Regions from separate parts of the Homo sapiens genome. Here region 1 is linked to region 2. The links come from fine-mapping of genetic effects on gene expression. Tissue or cell type: thyroid. Region 2 holds a variant in brackets; the other region holds the start of a gene. All regions are shown on one strand. Distances are from middle to middle.

Evidence for each region. PIP is the estimated chance that this variant, and not a neighbour inherited with it, causes the effect.
Region 1: BEND7 starts here. The variant in region 2 is fine-mapped to the expression of BEND7 in thyroid (GTEx, PIP above 0.99).

Annotation. Positions count from the first base shown.
Region 1 is chr10:13,524,478-13,532,660 of GRCh38, forward strand. It overlaps BEND7 (BEN domain containing 7), which reads right to left and starts at 4,537. Exons shown (of 9, transcript NM_001369863.1): 1 at 3,996-4,537; 2 at 1,661-1,744. The coding sequence starts at 4,056. BEND7-DT (BEND7 divergent transcript) reads left to right here and starts at 4,127. Exons shown (of 2, transcript XR_930674.3): 1 at 4,127-4,175; 2 at 5,543-5,787.
Region 2 is chr10:13,563,947-13,572,129 of GRCh38, forward strand. No RefSeq gene overlaps it. Among named protein-coding and RNA genes, the nearest start is that of PRPF18, 19 kb to the right of the region's middle. The variant C/T (reference allele first, on the strand shown) is at 4,535.

The sequences.
Region 1 (8,183 bases), 39 kb before region 2:
ACTAAAAATACAAAAAATTAGCCAAGCGTGGTGGCAGGTGCTTGTAATCCCAGCTACTCAGGAGGCTGAGGCAGGAGAATCGCCTGAACCTGGGAGGCAGGGGTTGCAGTGAGCCGAGATCATGCCATTGCACTCCAGCCTGGATAAAAAGAGTGAACCTCCGTCTCAAAAAAAAAAAAAAAAAAAAAAGAATTCCAACTGACCAAGTTTAGGGGACTGGAAAGACTAGAATCCAAGAATATTCTCTTTCTGGGCCACAGCATTTCACTTGATTATTAACCTTTTGGCTCCTAGCTCTCTTAACAGTAAACAGGTACTGGGAGCAGTGCTGGCCCCAGTGATATTCTTTCCCTCAGCAGAAAGATCTATGTGCTATCAATGATCGCTCATGTAAGAAATGCTGACATTTCCCTCCTATTTTTCCTCTTAAAGTATATATTAATATTTGACTTCTTCCCAATGCATCCCGACCCACCCTTTCTATCCCTCAAAGCAAAACCAGAGAGATCCTGGCGAGAGCTTCGTTTGAAGGCTGACCCACACCGGGTCTGAGCAGCAGTCCTGCTACCTGAAGTCCCCCTTGATGGGGTAATTGTGGCTTTGCTTGTAATCGTTCTCGCTCTGACCTCTCTCATGTTCTGCTTCCTTGCTGTGCAGTGCTGTGCCCTCACCCTGCTACCTGGGATTGCAGAGGTCCAAGATGGACAAGGTTGAGGCCCAACGCCACCATCTACTCTCCACCCTGACCTTATGGGTACTTCACTCTTAGAGGCAAAATCTTACGTGGTTTCATTTTTGGCTGATTGTGTGCAAATAAAAAACTGCACATCCAAAGTCTTTCCTGTACAGTATTTGCACCAACACTGCACATGGAAAAGGTGGCAATGTTTGTGGCTACCTACCCACCCATCATGCAGCTACACTTGCTGGAAAGTCTCAGAAATGCTGTTTTAGCTCTGCTCATCCCTGACGTGAGCTGGGAACAAGGATGGTAAGAGGAAAGCATGCTGTTCCCCCTGTCCCAAAATGCTGGTGTGAAAGGAGCACAAAGTCAGGAAAATGAGGAGCTGCTTGATGATAACTAGCACTATCAAGAGCTGGTTAGGCAGACAGTCACACTTTTATTTTCCTTATGCTTTTTGACTGTAGATTTAATTTAATTTTGTCATGGCAGGATTAGCAACTGGGCCACAGAGGTGAAGGGACATTATAAGACAGCACATTAATCCTCTATCCCACCCAAGGCAGAAGCAAAACCAAACAAATAGCAGCTTCCTGGAAATTGAATTTCTGTTATCCAGATGTCAAAGATGTAATACCCCAATTACACAAACTATTGCCAGTGAAGCATGCCAACGAATATGCAATGTAAATGGGGTGAGCGCAGAGCCACAAAACTGCACAGTCAGCATCTGGCTCTGTGAGTGAGTGATAATTAGCACTGTGTGTAGACACTAATAAACATTTATGTCTGAAATTACAACTTTTAGCAATGTTAATAAGGGATATATTGGCAATCTGTAAAATAAAAGGTCTTGAAAAGAATGTCATACATTAAGCAATGGCAGACATTTCCCGTTCCTGAACAATTTCCTTTTTTCCCCCTAATTGCAAATGGTCACGATGTTTTGCTGAGGTATTAATTGACATAGGAACCTACCTAAAAAAATGGGCTGTGTCTCTTTGGCCTCCCCATTAACATCGTTGCTGAATTCTGGGATCTTATACACCTCGTGGTGATAATCTGGCATGAGAAAACAACCAAAAATTAGAATCCTAAGGACCTCAAGATAGGAATAAGCAGTCAAGTCTAGAATCTCATTCTATTTAGTTTGTATACTCTATAATTTATAAATAAACTTTTTGAGAACTGAAATAATCACAGAATTTGTAGTCAATAATAATTCCTAAAACTTTGCTTATTCTGGAGTACGCAAACTTGAAAGATTACTTTGGCTTTAGAAGACAGCTTTGCTTGATCACACCATGTTCACGGTAAATTGTACCCACAGATGCCAATTTTTAGGCTTTTTTTCTTTGAGGTGGCAAGTATGTTTGCCCAATCATAGAGCAGGGGAGGTTTCCAAATTTCTCTTCACAACCCATTTTCACCAGCATATCAACAGTATGCTTTAAAGTTTAGCCAGCACTCTAGTTTTCTCAGTTTACCCAGAAAATCTCAGCCTTTAAGCAGCTTAAAGGCAAGCACACATGAAAAATACTGATTTGTTATTTCAAATGTAGTATGATTTGGATAAGAAAGCAAGATTTTCATCTTTCACACAAGTGACTCTTTCGCATTCAGCTACTGCACTTTATTTAATATGCAAGTTTATTTTCTAAAACTGCACCTGCAGAGAAAGAGAAGAATCAGACCTATAATTAAAAGAAAAAGAAAAAAGGAAAAAGGAAAAACTTGCTACGTCAGTCAAAGTTTCAAATACAGTATTTTACAAGCTTCTCTATGGAGGCTACTGCATTTTTGCTTCTATTTTTGAAAAGCAGGGTCACTAAGGCATGAAAATAGAGGTTCCTCCTTAACACCTAGTCCCCTTTCTCTGGCCTTAGACCTCACAGGACAAAGTCAACAAAACTACTCTCACTTTTAAGATAAAGCAGTTAAGTTCTCTGAGGTCATCAATAAGAAAGCAGCTTACATTCCTGAATGAATCAGATAGCACCAACAGGGCAATCACCCAGACAGAGACTTTTAAAAGTCCAAGTAACTGAGTAATCAACACGGATGTGGAAAAAAAAATTTACTCAGAAAGTGGGAAGAGCCAAGTATTTTGAATGCGTGAAACTATTTCAGGCCTCTTTCATTAAACAGTATCCAAACTAAATTAGGGGAGGCAGATAAGAATGGATCTTCAAAATGCCTATAATCAAAGCATTTTCAGATGAACCAAATCCACATCTTAGCTAGCTTAGCTCAGTTTGAAAAATTCGATTACTTGCAATTGTCCACGATTTTTTCACTAATTTTCATCAGTTTACACGTGACTTCTGCAGGTTGTTGGAGTTTCTACCCTGATGCCAATGCTAGAGAAAACGACAGAGGAAAAGTGGACAGGTTGGGGTTTGGCTTTGACCTCAACTTGATTAAAAGACGACATTTAAACAGAGCGGGTCTAAACTCAATATGAGGACTTGTGACATTACAATGAAAAAAGTCACCTGCCCCTAATTAAAGATGACAATGCATTTTGAGATATATTTTCACGATGGCTCTTGAGTTATCATTTTTTTAAAAAAAAAAGTCAAATCAGGAAGATAAAGACTCTTAACAAGTAACTGAACACAGACAAGACTGTATTCCACTTTCCCCTCCCTGACAAAATACAAACCCTAGAGTGTGGTGTACACCTGTTAATTCGTCAGAAACTAGATGGATTTCTTTTCTTTCTTTTCTTTTTTCTTTTTTTTAAAGGATGCTTATCTGACTGCTATATGATCTAGTCTAAAACACCTTTCCAACCCAAATCAGCTAGCTAGAGATGTTGGATGTCAACAATTCCGCCTTGGGCTTGGACACGGCGTGAGCTTCTTTCTCCTTCTTAAAAAGAACAACAACGGTCATCCTTTTTCCTCCTTCTCTTGGCGGGGGGAAGGGGGAAGACCCCAGAAAACAAAAACAGCAAATCTCAGGTCCGAGGGTCCACGCTCGGCCTGATGGCCAGGCAGGTCCGCGGCCGCCCCAGCCCTGCCCCGGAGGCGCCCCGAGGAGGGCTCGGGCCCCCCGGTGTCATTGTTTGCTAATTTCCTGAGCTGCCCTCCGACTTGTTTACGTTAAATAACATCCCTGCTCCCCCCGCACAACTTTCCCCGCCGCCCGGCGTGTGCGGCCGCGGCCCTGCCTGCCAGCCCGGCGGAGGCACCGGGGGACCGGGAAGGACCGGGGGCTCCGGGAGGGCGCGCCCCCCAGCGTGGACCCCCGCGGGCGGCCGAGGGCGCGGCGCCCGCTGCCTGCCCCCGCCGCCCCGGCGGCCGCTTACCTCGGCTCACCAGTTTGAAGCTCTGGGATTTCCTGCTTCTTTTCCTCTCGGAGAACTCCATGGTGCGGGGAAGGCGGCGGCGGGGGCTGAGGAGGCGGCGGCAGCGGCGGCAGCGGCAGCGGCGGCAGCGGCAGCGGCGGCGCGGGCTCGTGTCACCGCGGCGGAGCCGCCGGGACCAAGGTCCGCGCCTGGAGTCGGCGAGGGGAGGCCGCGGGACGGGAGGAACCACCGCGAGCCGGCTCGGGGCTGCAGGCGCGGGGCCCGGCGGCGTGGGCTCCCGGGCGAAGTTGCCCCCGCGCGGCGCCGCCTCCCGGTGCCCTAGGCGCCCCCGCGGCCCCCGCTCATGCCGGCCCGCGGGTTCCAGACGCCGCCCGCCGCAGCCCAACTTTCCGTTGGGAGCGGGCCGGGCCGGGGCGCGGCGGCGGCGGCGGAGGCGGGGGGCGGCTCGGGGCGGCCGGCCCGCCTGGGCTCAGCCTGCGGTCGCGGCGGCGGCGGCGGCGGCCCCGAAGACGCGGCGGGCGGGCTGCGGGGAGGGCGGCGGCGGGTGCAGAGCCGGCCGGGGCGCTGACCGCCCCCGCGGGAGGAGGGGCGCCGGCGGAGGGGGCGGTGCCGCTGGGACCCCAGGGCCACCTGCTGGCGGAGCCCGGCCGCCGCCATCCCCGGGGGCCGCCGCCGGCCTGGCCGCGCGGCGCCCCGAGGAGGCGCGGAGGCCGCGGCGCAGCGCCCTGGCCCGGGCCCGGCCGGCCTGCCTGCCCCCGGGGACGACGCCGCCGCCCGGGCCTCCGCTCGCAGACCCCGCTCGCTGGCCTCCCTCCGCCGCTTGCTGGGCCGAGCTAACTCCGTGCACCTCGCCGTGGGGGCGCGGACCGCCCCGACAACCACCTCCCCGCCCTCACATCCCGGGCGCCCCGGGGCCCGACGCGCTGATTTTAAGCAAGTTTTAGGGGGAAAAAACTTACCCATTTGCGCTCTCTCTAGAAGGACAGAGAGGAGGTTTTAGAATATTGTGGAGAAGAATATAGTAGAGAGCTCCCATTCCCTAACCCAGGCTGGGCGGATTGTGGAAAGAGCCGAGTCACATTCAAGGAGAGCACTTGGAATGGGGGGCTTGGTGGCCCTGGGGACTCTCAGGAGGCCATGGTCAAGGCAGGTGCAGGGCACTATGCTTCTCCACGTCATATGTCGGAATCATGGACCCAAACACAAAGCGCTTAGTAGTTATGTGTAATATTCTTTTCGGGGGATCAGAGAGCGCACTTCAGGCACCATTTCTTTCTCACATCTTTCGAGTGGGCCAGGAAAAGAATTTCACACTACCTGGGAATGGTAGGACAGGAACATGACGGGACATGCGTGAAAGTATCTGCCAAACCCAACCAGGAAGAGGGTAAAGAGTCGGGGGATGGGGGGGCTACCTCTCCGGCACGGGACAAAGGCCAGTGGCCCCAAAAGAGTAGAGAGGAAAAAGGGGAGGTTGACAAATGTGATGAGTGTCACGTGGGTCTCACCCAAATGAGGCAGCCGCTGAGGAACCGCTCTTATTTCAGGGACACAGAGTAGGACAACTGCCGAGGAAGGGGGACATTGAGGCAGCTTGCAGAAACACACATGGAGAAACAGAACCAAAGAGCAGGGTAACCAGCAAACCAGGCAGTGGAGGCAGGGATGGGTACCCATCCCGAGATCTTGGGTGATACCAAAGGCGGCACATCCGGAAGGCTGGTTATACCTAGCGTGGAGGGGAGAGGGAGAACTGTTTCTTCCGTTCAATAAAGCAAACCCTTCAACAAGAGGTTCTTAACCTTTTTTAGTCACTGTTTCCTTTGAGATTGTGTTCAAAGCTCAAGGGCCCTTTTTCCCAGAAAATATGTATGGGACATATAAAATTTAGTATAGATTTATTGGAGTTCTTAGACGCGCTTTGCTGCTCTCAGAAAATTAGTGGTAACAGTGATTAAAGCAACTACCCTATTTGGGTTTCTTCCTTCCCTGCCACCCCTTTCTTTAAAATCAGGCATTAAAATCTGAAGATGTTTTGGATTTTTTTTTATTTTTTATTTTTTGAGACAGAGTCTCATTCTGTCGCCCAGGATGGAGTGCAGTGGTGCGATCTCAGCTTACTGCAACCTCCACCTCCCGGGTTCAAGCGATTTTCCTGCCTCAGCCTCCCAAGTAGCTAGGATTACAGGCATGGGCCACCACGCCCAGCTAATTTTTTGTATTTTAGTAGAGATGGGGTTTCGCCATGTTGGCCAGGCTGGTTTCAAACTCCTGACCTCAAGTGATCAGCCCGCCTAGGCCTCCCAAAGTGCTGGGATTACAGGCGTGAACCACCACGTCCGGCTGTTTTGGATGTTTTTAAAGAAACAAAGCATGCAATTTTGTTCCCCAGGCTGGGATCCATTCTTTCTTTATGTAATGCCTTTTAAAATGTTATTCTCAAAGCCGTAAGGCTAAGTTCTACACTGACTGAGGAACTTCCCGGATCGTTCATGCTTTGGAGCATATAATGAGATTTTATTATGCTTAAACTATGACGAACCCAGTGAAGGTGTCATCCCAAGAAGTAAATCCCTGGAGAAGGTATTAACAACTTAGCATTTTCAGTTCAAGTGGGAATGCAAATTCCATTTACTGAAGAGAATATTTTTGATATAGTTAAGAATAAAATATTTGAGTAAGAATATTTTTAAATAGTAGTCATTTCTCCTTGACCCTTTTTAACCTGGCTTTCCAAAGTTGGTCTATGAGTGAGTTGGCCTGCAGAGGACACAGGCTACGCTTGTCTTATTAGCTTTTAGAGAAAATAAATGTCTGTTTACTCTGCATTTTGTGCAAATCACTATGCTCTTATCTAACAAAAATGTATATATCACATTTAGTATTAAAATTAATAATAATGTTTAATTAAAATGAGGTTGCTTGGGGCCAGGTGTAGTGGCTCACACCTGTAATCCCAACATTTTGGGATACAGAAGGATTGCTTAAGGCCAGAAATTCAAGACCAACCTGGATAACATCCTGAGACCCGGTCTCTACCAAAAAATTAAAATATAAAATAAAACATAAAGTGAGATTGCTTTAAGTAGCAGGTATCCATATAGTAGCTGATCCTTATCCTTGGGGAGTATGTCCAAGACCTTCAGTGGATGTCTGAACCTGAGGATAGTACCGAACCCCGTATATACTATGTTACCATCAAACCCCATATATACCGTGTTTTTTATTGTTTTATGTTTTCTAATAACCAAGCCAACAAGTGACTAACGAGCAGATAGTGCAGACAATGTGAATACGCTAGGCTAAAGAATGATTCCTATTCTGGGCCGGAAGGAGCAGGTTGGCTAAAGATTTCATCATGCCACTCAAAATGGGGCACAATTTTAAATTGATGCATTGTTTATTTCTGGAAGTTTCCATTCAATATTTGCAGGCCATAGGTGACTGCAGGTAACTGAAATCATGGATAAAGGGGGACTACTGTATTAGCCTGTTCGGGCTATCTTAACAAATACCACATACTGGGTGACTTAACAGCAGCTTATTTTCTTACCATTCTAAAGGCTGCAAGTTTCAGATCTAGGTCTGGCAGGGTCAGTTTCTGGCGAGGGCCCTTTTCTTAGCTTGCACACCACTACACTTACATGGCATAGGAAGAGAGCTGTCTTTCTCTCCCTCTTCTTGTAAGGCCACCAATCTTATCAAATTAGGGCTCCGCCTTTATGATCTCTTTTAACCTTAATTACCTTCTATTAAAGGTTCAATCTCCAGATACAGTCACGTTAGGAGTCAGGGATTCAACATATGAGTTTGTGGGGGACACAAATCAGTCTGTAGCCATCTTGTTTTCACTCAAATATAATGTCTGTATTGAGGGGTCCTGGAAAGTTTTCTAGGGGATCTACTGAAGTCATTTCTTTACCCCATTCTTTCCAATTTTAGTATATGTGCTGCCGAAGCTAGCACTCTTTGCCTCATTCTTAAAGGCCCCCTAAAGTTCCAGAACCACAGGTTTATGTGTTACTGGAGATCAGAGATAATTGGTCAAATATTCAATGACATCACGCAGGGCAAACATTTTATTATATGGCCATGCTTAAACCCACTTGATTATAAAGATTACATGTTGGTTTCAATCTTTGACAAAGCCAGATAATTTGGCCAGAAAACCTGAAGTAACCTTACCGC
Region 2 (8,183 bases):
AGACAAGGACTCACTTTGCCACTTAGACTAGAGCATGGTGATGCAATCACGGTTCACTGCAGCCTTGACCCCCTGGGCTCAAGTGATCCTCCCTCTCAGCCTTCCAAGTAGCTGGGATTGCAGACATGCATCACTACACCTGGCTAACTTTTAAGTATTTTGTAAAGAAGCAGTCTCGCTCTGTTGCCCAGGCTGGTCTTGAACTCCTGATCGCATGCAGTCCTCTTGCTTCAGTCTCCCAAAGTATTGAGATCACAGGCATGAGTCACTGCACACAGCCTGTTTGGCATTTTGACAATGGCCCAAATTCTCTATTGCCTGCCTGTGGCTAACCCTCCTTGTCTGCTAACCCTCCTTCTTCCAGAGGAGGAAGACACGTGTGGGTCTTCCTCCTCACCTGGTCCAGTTCTCACCTGACCACTTTGCCAAAGCTGACAAGAAACTGCTCCTCAGCACCCAGCTTCCTCCCACAGGCAATAGAGATCTTTCAACAGGGCTGATACCCACTATGGGAATTCAGAAGAAAGCTGGGCAAGTGATAGGACAAGGGAATGAAGCCAAGAGGTGGTAGAAAGTGGGAAAGTGGAAACATCAGGGAAGGATCATGGAGGGAGAGGAAGAACCGTAAAGTCGTTCAGGTAACTGTTGGTGGATGATATGGTCTGTGTAAGAGTTGAAGAAGGAAGAAAGAAGCACAAAAAGTGGCTCAACAGTCAAAGACAGGTTTATGTTAAAGAATAAACCTGAGAGGGGCTTCTGGCCGAATTAGGTCAGGAGCACTCTCTCTTACAGACTAAGAGTTTTTAAGAGGTCAGGTCAAGAGAGCGCATCACAGGCTGGGAATGTTTCTGTGTCTCTTTGTCTTGCTTATCTGGGAGAGAGAGTTTTGTGTCTGTTCCCATACATCTTCCTGCAGGTACAGGCATACCCACTGAGTCTGCTTTTAGCTTTCCTAGCTTAGTGCACCTAAAGGAAAAGGAATGTGCTTATTAGGGCCCACTGTTTTACTGGGGCCCATTGTATGAGTGTGAAGTTTGGTGGTTACCCAAGAGACTTTCCCCCACTCCTTCTGGGCCCGAGCTGTCTTATCTGTGTTTTGCTATCTGCCCTTTCTGGCTTTTTCTTGTTAGAAGAGAAGTGATTTCCTTGAAACGCATGAGGGTAGAAAGGGAGCTAGAACTTAAAATGGCAGTGTTTTTCCAAGAAGACAGTGCTCCTGCTCTGTCAGTTTGGATCTGCATCCCCACCAAATCTCATGTTGAATTGTAATCCCCAGGGTTGGAGGTGGGGCCTGGTAGGAGGTGACTGTACCATAGGGGCAGATTTCCCATGAATGCCTTAGCACCATCCCCCTCGATACTGTCCTCATGATAGTCAGCGAGTTCTTGTGAGATCTAGTTGTTTAAAAGTGTGTGGTACCCACCCCCATCCCCTGCTCCTGCTCCGGCCATTTAAGACGCATCTGCTCCCCCTTTGCCTTCCACCCTGATTGGAAGCTTCCCAAGGCCTCCCCAGAAGCCGAGCAGATGCCAGCATCATGCTTCCTGTACAGCCTGCAGAACCATGAGCCAATTAAACCTGTTTTACTCATAAATTACCCAGTCTCAGGTATTTCTTTATAGTGATGCAAGAACAGACAAATACAGGGGATAAAACACTAGAAAGAATGGGGATGAATGGAAAATGGAGATCTATGACGAAGAAAAATAAAGTGTGTGGTGGTTACAGTTGAAAATAAAAAAAGAAAATGGGTGTAATGTTTGGAGGGGAGGCGTGCAGTGGAGGTGAAGGTGGAAAGGTGGGCTACGGGGCCATTTCAAGGCAGGATTATAAGGTGGGCACCTGAGACAATCAGCCAATGACTGCCATTAGAGGGGCTGTAACAGCTCTTGCCTTCAAGAAAGATGGGATTCAAAAGATGGCTTAAATAAATACAAAAATATATAAAATAAAGTAGACTATTAAACATAATAAGAGAAGTTCAAATAAATCATGGTGGGATCACACAAAAAGGACGTCATGGCATTCAACATTCTGTCCCTTATCTCTGAAGAGTTTTGAGACTGAAATTTGGGGGGTTCTTTTCTTTTTCTTTCTTTCTTTTTTTTTTTTTTCTGAGATGGAGTCTTGCTCTGTCGCGCAATGGCGCAATCTTGGTTCACTGCAACCTCTGCCTCCCAGGTTCAAGCAATTCTCCTGCCTCAGCCTTCCGAGTGGCTGGGATTACAGGTGCCTGCCACCATGCCTGGCTAATTTTTGTATTTTTAGTAGAGACGGGGTTTCACCACATTGGCCAGGCTGGTCTTGAACTCCAGACCTTGTGATCCACCCGCCTTGGCCTTCCAAAGTGCTGGCACTATAGGCATGAGCCACTGCCCCCAGCCTTGGGGGTTCTTTAGTAGAAAGTTACCATGTAAATATATTAAATTACTAAACATCTTCAGCAATCAAAAGAAAATCATGTTATGTTTGATAGCAGAAACTTACCCTGATTTAGGGTCTATTTATAATATTAAATTTATACATTTAGAAACACTTTATCTCATTTTTTTTTTTTGCCTCAAAATCTCTGTTGGTTAAGTAAAGTATGATCTTTATTTTGCAAATGACTGGCCTAATATTATACCTCTTTAAGTGACAAAGCCATTTTCTACTTCTCTTTTTTTCAGTCTTGTGTGTTTTTCTAGATCATTGTTGGCATGCTAAAATCTGGTATTTTCTAGGATGAATCAGTAGCTTTTTTTTATTGTAAAGAGTAGAAACTCTGGCCCTATTTTAACTAATCTTTTCAGTGGTAGGAGGATGAAACAGAAATAAAATATATTGAGGATGGTAAGTAAGAATTATAAGGAATTGGCATTTGGCACTGGTCGTTTCTAAGGAGATTAAAAAGGCATAAACATTAACGAAATGTGATGAACTATTCAGCTCCTAGCATCGTAAATGCTAAATAAATGTTTGTTGAAATAATGAAAGAACGGATGGATGAACTGTAAAAACACAGAAATGAATATAATGATATCTAAAATTATTGAGTATTTACCATATGCCAGGCACTGTTTTAGCCCACTACATGCATCTCATTTTAATCAACACGCTAATTCTCTTACACAGGTACTGCTGTTATTTCCCATTCTGCAGATGAAGAAACTGAAGTACAGAAAGATTAAGTAATTATAGTACTGAGGCCCTGTCCCATTTATAACACTGCAGCAAGTTCCTGATTTCATAAGAGCCCTGTGGCAAGTTACTCAATTTCATAATGCAACTAGCCAGCCATACTCTTCCTAAGCCAGCCAAGCCCAAGCCCATCAATTGGTTGCTTCTGTTTGTGCTGCCACTTGTGGCTGAGTGGACCTGCTCTTGTTCCCTTACCCTTCCACCATCTCTTTCAGCTCTATTTGTGACTTCTTATTCCAAAGGCTGTTGGCACCACTTGGCAACACACCTCTTCAGCCCTAACTGGAGATAAGAATAGGTGGGAAAGGGGCTATTAATTTCAAACATAACATGGAGATCCAGGACTTGGGTTCCAGGCTTCCAGTTCTGCCTTGACTCTCACCTCTGCTTTCTTACCCTTGAAAGCCAAAGCAAAATTCTCTGCGTCTTCTGGCCAGCCATCCTATATTTTATTGACTCTATGACAGCCATTCATTCAGAGATTCTGATGTAATTGCTCTGGTATAAAAAAAGTGCACCCTGTTCACAATAGCAAAGACTTGGAACCAACCCAAATGCCCATCAGTGATAGACTGGATAAAGAAAATGTGGCACATGTATACCATGGAATACTATGCAGCTGTAAAAAATGATGAGTTCATGTCCTTTGCAGGGACATAGATGAAGTTGGAAACCATTATTCTCAGCAAACTAACACAGGGACAGAAAACCAAACACTGCATGTTCTCACTCATAAGTGGGAGTTGAGCATTGAGAACACATAGATACAAGGAGGGGAACGTCACACACTGGGGCCTGTCGGAGGGTGGGGGGCTGGGGGAGGGATAGCATTAGGAGAAATACCTAATGTGGATGACAGGTTGATGGGAGCAGCAAACCACCATGGCACGTGTATACCTGTATAACAAACCTGCACATTCTGCATATGTACCCCAGAAATTAAAGTATAATTTAAAAAAAAGTGCACCATTAAAAAAATTCACCACTAAGAAGGAAAAATAAACATTCTCAATTATAACTGCGTGATGTCATCAACTGAAAAAATATGTCCCCTTTTCAGAGAAGTTAAAACTGAAAAAAAAAGTCACGTTAAACTGGGTGAAATGTGGTCTTTAACGGTGTCTTGATAGATATTTCTAACACGTGGGGGACATTCATAGCCAGCTTTTCCCATGGCCATTACTACTGCCACTTGCAATGTTCTCAATGTTCTGTCCCTCCTTTTGGAACGTGCTGTCAATTGTAGCAGCTGTAGTTATAAGTAGTTATAAACAGTGCTTTTTTTTTTTGAGATGGAGTCTCTGTCACCCAGGCTGGAGTGCAGTGGGACGATCTCAGCTCACTGCAACCTCTG[C/T]CTCCTGGGTTCAAGCAATTCTCCTGTCTCAGCCTCCTGAGTAGCTGGGAATACAGGCGCACACCACCATGCCCAGCTAATTTTTGCATTTTTAGTAGAGACGGGGTTTCACCATACTAGTCAGGCTGGTCTCGAACTCCTGACCTCAGGTGATCCACCCACCTCGGCCTCCCAAAGTGCTGGGATTACAGGCTTGAGCCACTGCGCCCGGCCAGTGGTGCTCTTTTTGATGCAAACCTGTGAAGATTGTATATTTTGGATGTGATGGCTAACACAGAAGGATGCAGTGGCAGAGGATGCTAAAGAGTGGATACAATAGGAAGAGTATGGAATATATCAGAGGATAAGATGTTTAGGGAGGGGGTGCATGTGTCTTTTTAACCACTATGATATAGAATATTTCCATTTCCCTCCTCCTCCAAAAAATGCTCCTTCGTGACCCTCTGCAGTCAATTCCCAGCCCAAGCCCCAGCTCCTGGCAGTCACTAATCTTTCTATCACTATATTTTTAATGCTCCTGAAATTTCATATAAACGGAATCATGTAGTATATAGTATTCTGTGTCTGGAATACTTCACTTAACATACTGTTTTGGGACTTTCCAGGTTGTTGCATATATCAGCTGTTCATTCCTTCTTTATTTCAGAATACAGTTCCTTTGAATGAATGATACTATGGTGCATTTATCCATTCATTAGTTGACATGTATATTTGGGTTGTTTCTCCAACCCAACAAGGAAACATTCAGTCTTTCACCATTACATATGATGGTGACTGTAGGTTTTTGGTAAATGCTCTTTCCTACTTTGCTGCAAGTTTTTATCATGAATGAGTGTTGGATTTTGTCAAATGCTTTTTGTGTGTGTGTCAACTAAGATGGTCACATGATTTTTTTTTGTTAGCCAGTTGATACAGTGGATTACATTGATAAATTTTTAATTAATCAATTTTTGTTTGTTGAGCCACTCTTGCATATCTGGAACAAGTTCTACTTTATGTCCTTGAATAACCAAAGCAATTCTAAGCAAAAAGAACAAATCTGAAAGCATCACATTACCTGATTTCAAATTATACTACAAGGCTATATTAAACAAAATGGCATGGTACTGGTATGAAAGTAGATACATAGACCAATGGAACAGAGTGGAGAAATCAGAAGTAAAGCCAAATACTTACAACCAACTGGTCTTTAACAAAGCATACAAAAACATAAATTGGGGAAAGGACAACCTATTCAATAAAAGGTGCTGGGAAAACTGGATAGCCATATGTAGAAGAATAAAACCGGGTCTCTGTCTCTCACCATATAAAAAAATCAACTCGAGATGGATCAAAGACTTTAAGACCTGAAACTATAAAAATTCTAGAAGAAAACCTAGGAAAACCCCTTCTGGACATTGGCCTAGGAAAATAATTTGTGACTAAGGCCCCAAAAGCAAATGCAATAAATAAATAAATAAATAGGACTGTATTGAAGAAGCTTTTGCATGCCAAAAGAAATAATCATCAGAGTAAACAGACAACCCACAGAATGGGAGAAAATATTTGCAAACGATGCATCCAACAAAGGGCTAATATCCAGAATCTACAAGGAACTCAAACAAACCAGCCAGAAAAATAAATAATCCCATCAAAAAGTAGGCAAATGACATGAATAGACATTTCTCAAAAGAAGATATACAAATGGCCAGCAAATATATGAAGAAATGCTCAACATTACTAATCATTAGGGAAATGCAAATTAAAATCACAAAGAGATACCACCTTACCCCAGCCAGACCACCATTATTAAAAAGTCAGAAAACAGGCCAGGTGCAGTGGCTCAAGCCTGTAATCCCAGCACTTTGGGAGGCTGAGGTGGGCAGATCACCTGATGTCAGGAGTTCGAGACCAGCCTGCCCAACATGGCGAAACCCCATCTCTACTAAAAATACAAGAAATTAGCCGGATGTGGTGGCGGGCGCCTATAATCCCAGCTACTCGGGAGGTTGAGGCAAGAGAATCACTTGAACCCAGGAGGCGGAGGTTGCAGTGAGCTGAGATTGCACCACTGCACTCCGGCCTGGGCAACAAGAGCGACACTCTGACTCAAAAAAAAAAAAAAAAAAAAAAAAACCAAAGTCAGGAAACAATAGATGTTGGCACAGACATGCTAAAAAAGGAAGGTGGGAATGTAAGTTAGTACAACCTCTATGGAAAGTGGTATGGAGACTTCTTAAGGAACAAAAGTAGATCTACCATTTGATCCAGCAATCTGGCTACTGGGTATCTACCCAAAGGAAAAGAAGTCATTCTATCAAGAAGACACCTGCATATATATATTTATCACAGCACAATTCACAATTGCAAAGATATGGAATCAACCAAAGTGCCAATCAACCGATGAGTGGGTAAAGAAAATGTGGTATATATACACCATAGAATCTACTCAGCTGTAAAAAAGTGAAATAATGTCTTTTCAGCAACCTGGATGAAGCTGAAGGCCATTGTTCCAAGAGAAGTAACTCAGGAATGGAAAATCAAACACAGTATATTCTCACTTGTAAGTGGGAGCTAAGCTATGGGTATGCAAAGTCATGCACACTGGTATAATAGACTTTAGAGATTCAGAAGGAAGGAGGGTGGGAGGGCGGTGGGGGATAAAAAACTGCATATTCAGTACAATGTACAGGACTTGGGTGACAGGCACACTAAAATCTTAGACTTCACCACTCTACAATTCATCTGTGTAACCAAAACCACTTGTACTCCAAAAGCTATGGAAAGAAAAAAATCCTACCTTTTCATGGTGTATAATGATTTTTATACATTGTTGGATTCAAGTTGCTAATATTCGGTTGAGGAATTTTGTGTCTAAGTTCATAAGTGATATTGGTCTATAGTTTTATTTTTCTGTAATGTGTTTGTTAGGTTTTGGTTTCTGGGAAACTGGCCTCATAAAAATTAGTTGGGAAGTACTCCCTCTTATATTTTCTGGAAGAACTGCAAAATTGGTGTTACTACTTTAAATATATGATAAGTCTCCAGTGAAACTCTCAGGACTTGGAGATTTCTATTTCCACCCCACAGGGTTTTGTTTGTTTGCTTGTTTGTTTGTTTGAGACAGAATCTCTCTCTGTTGCCCAGGCTGGAGTACAGTGGTGCACTCTCAGCTCACTGAAACCTCCGCCTCGCAGGTTCAAGTGGTTCTCCCACCTCTGTCTCCCGAGTAGCTGGGACAAGTGTGTACTACTGTGCTTAGCTTAGTTCAAAATACTTACTAATTTCCAGCCTGGGCAATGTGACGAAACCCTATCTCTACAAAAAATAAAAACAAAATGAGCCGAGTGTGGTGGCACATGACCATGGCACAAGCTATTTTGGGGACTAAGGTGTGAGGATCACTTGAGCTCAGGAGGTGGAGGCTGCAGCAAGCCATGATCATGCCACTGCACTCCAGCCTGGGTGACAGCAAGACCCTGTCTAAAAAAATGAAACTTGCTAATTTCCCTTGTGATTACTTTTTTGATCCTATGGATTATTTGTAACCGTACTGTTTAATTTCCAAATACTGGAGTTTTCTAGATATTTTTCTGCTATTTCTAGTTTAATTCATTGTTGTCAAAGAACATACACCGTATATTTTTAATTATTTGAAATTTATTGAGAA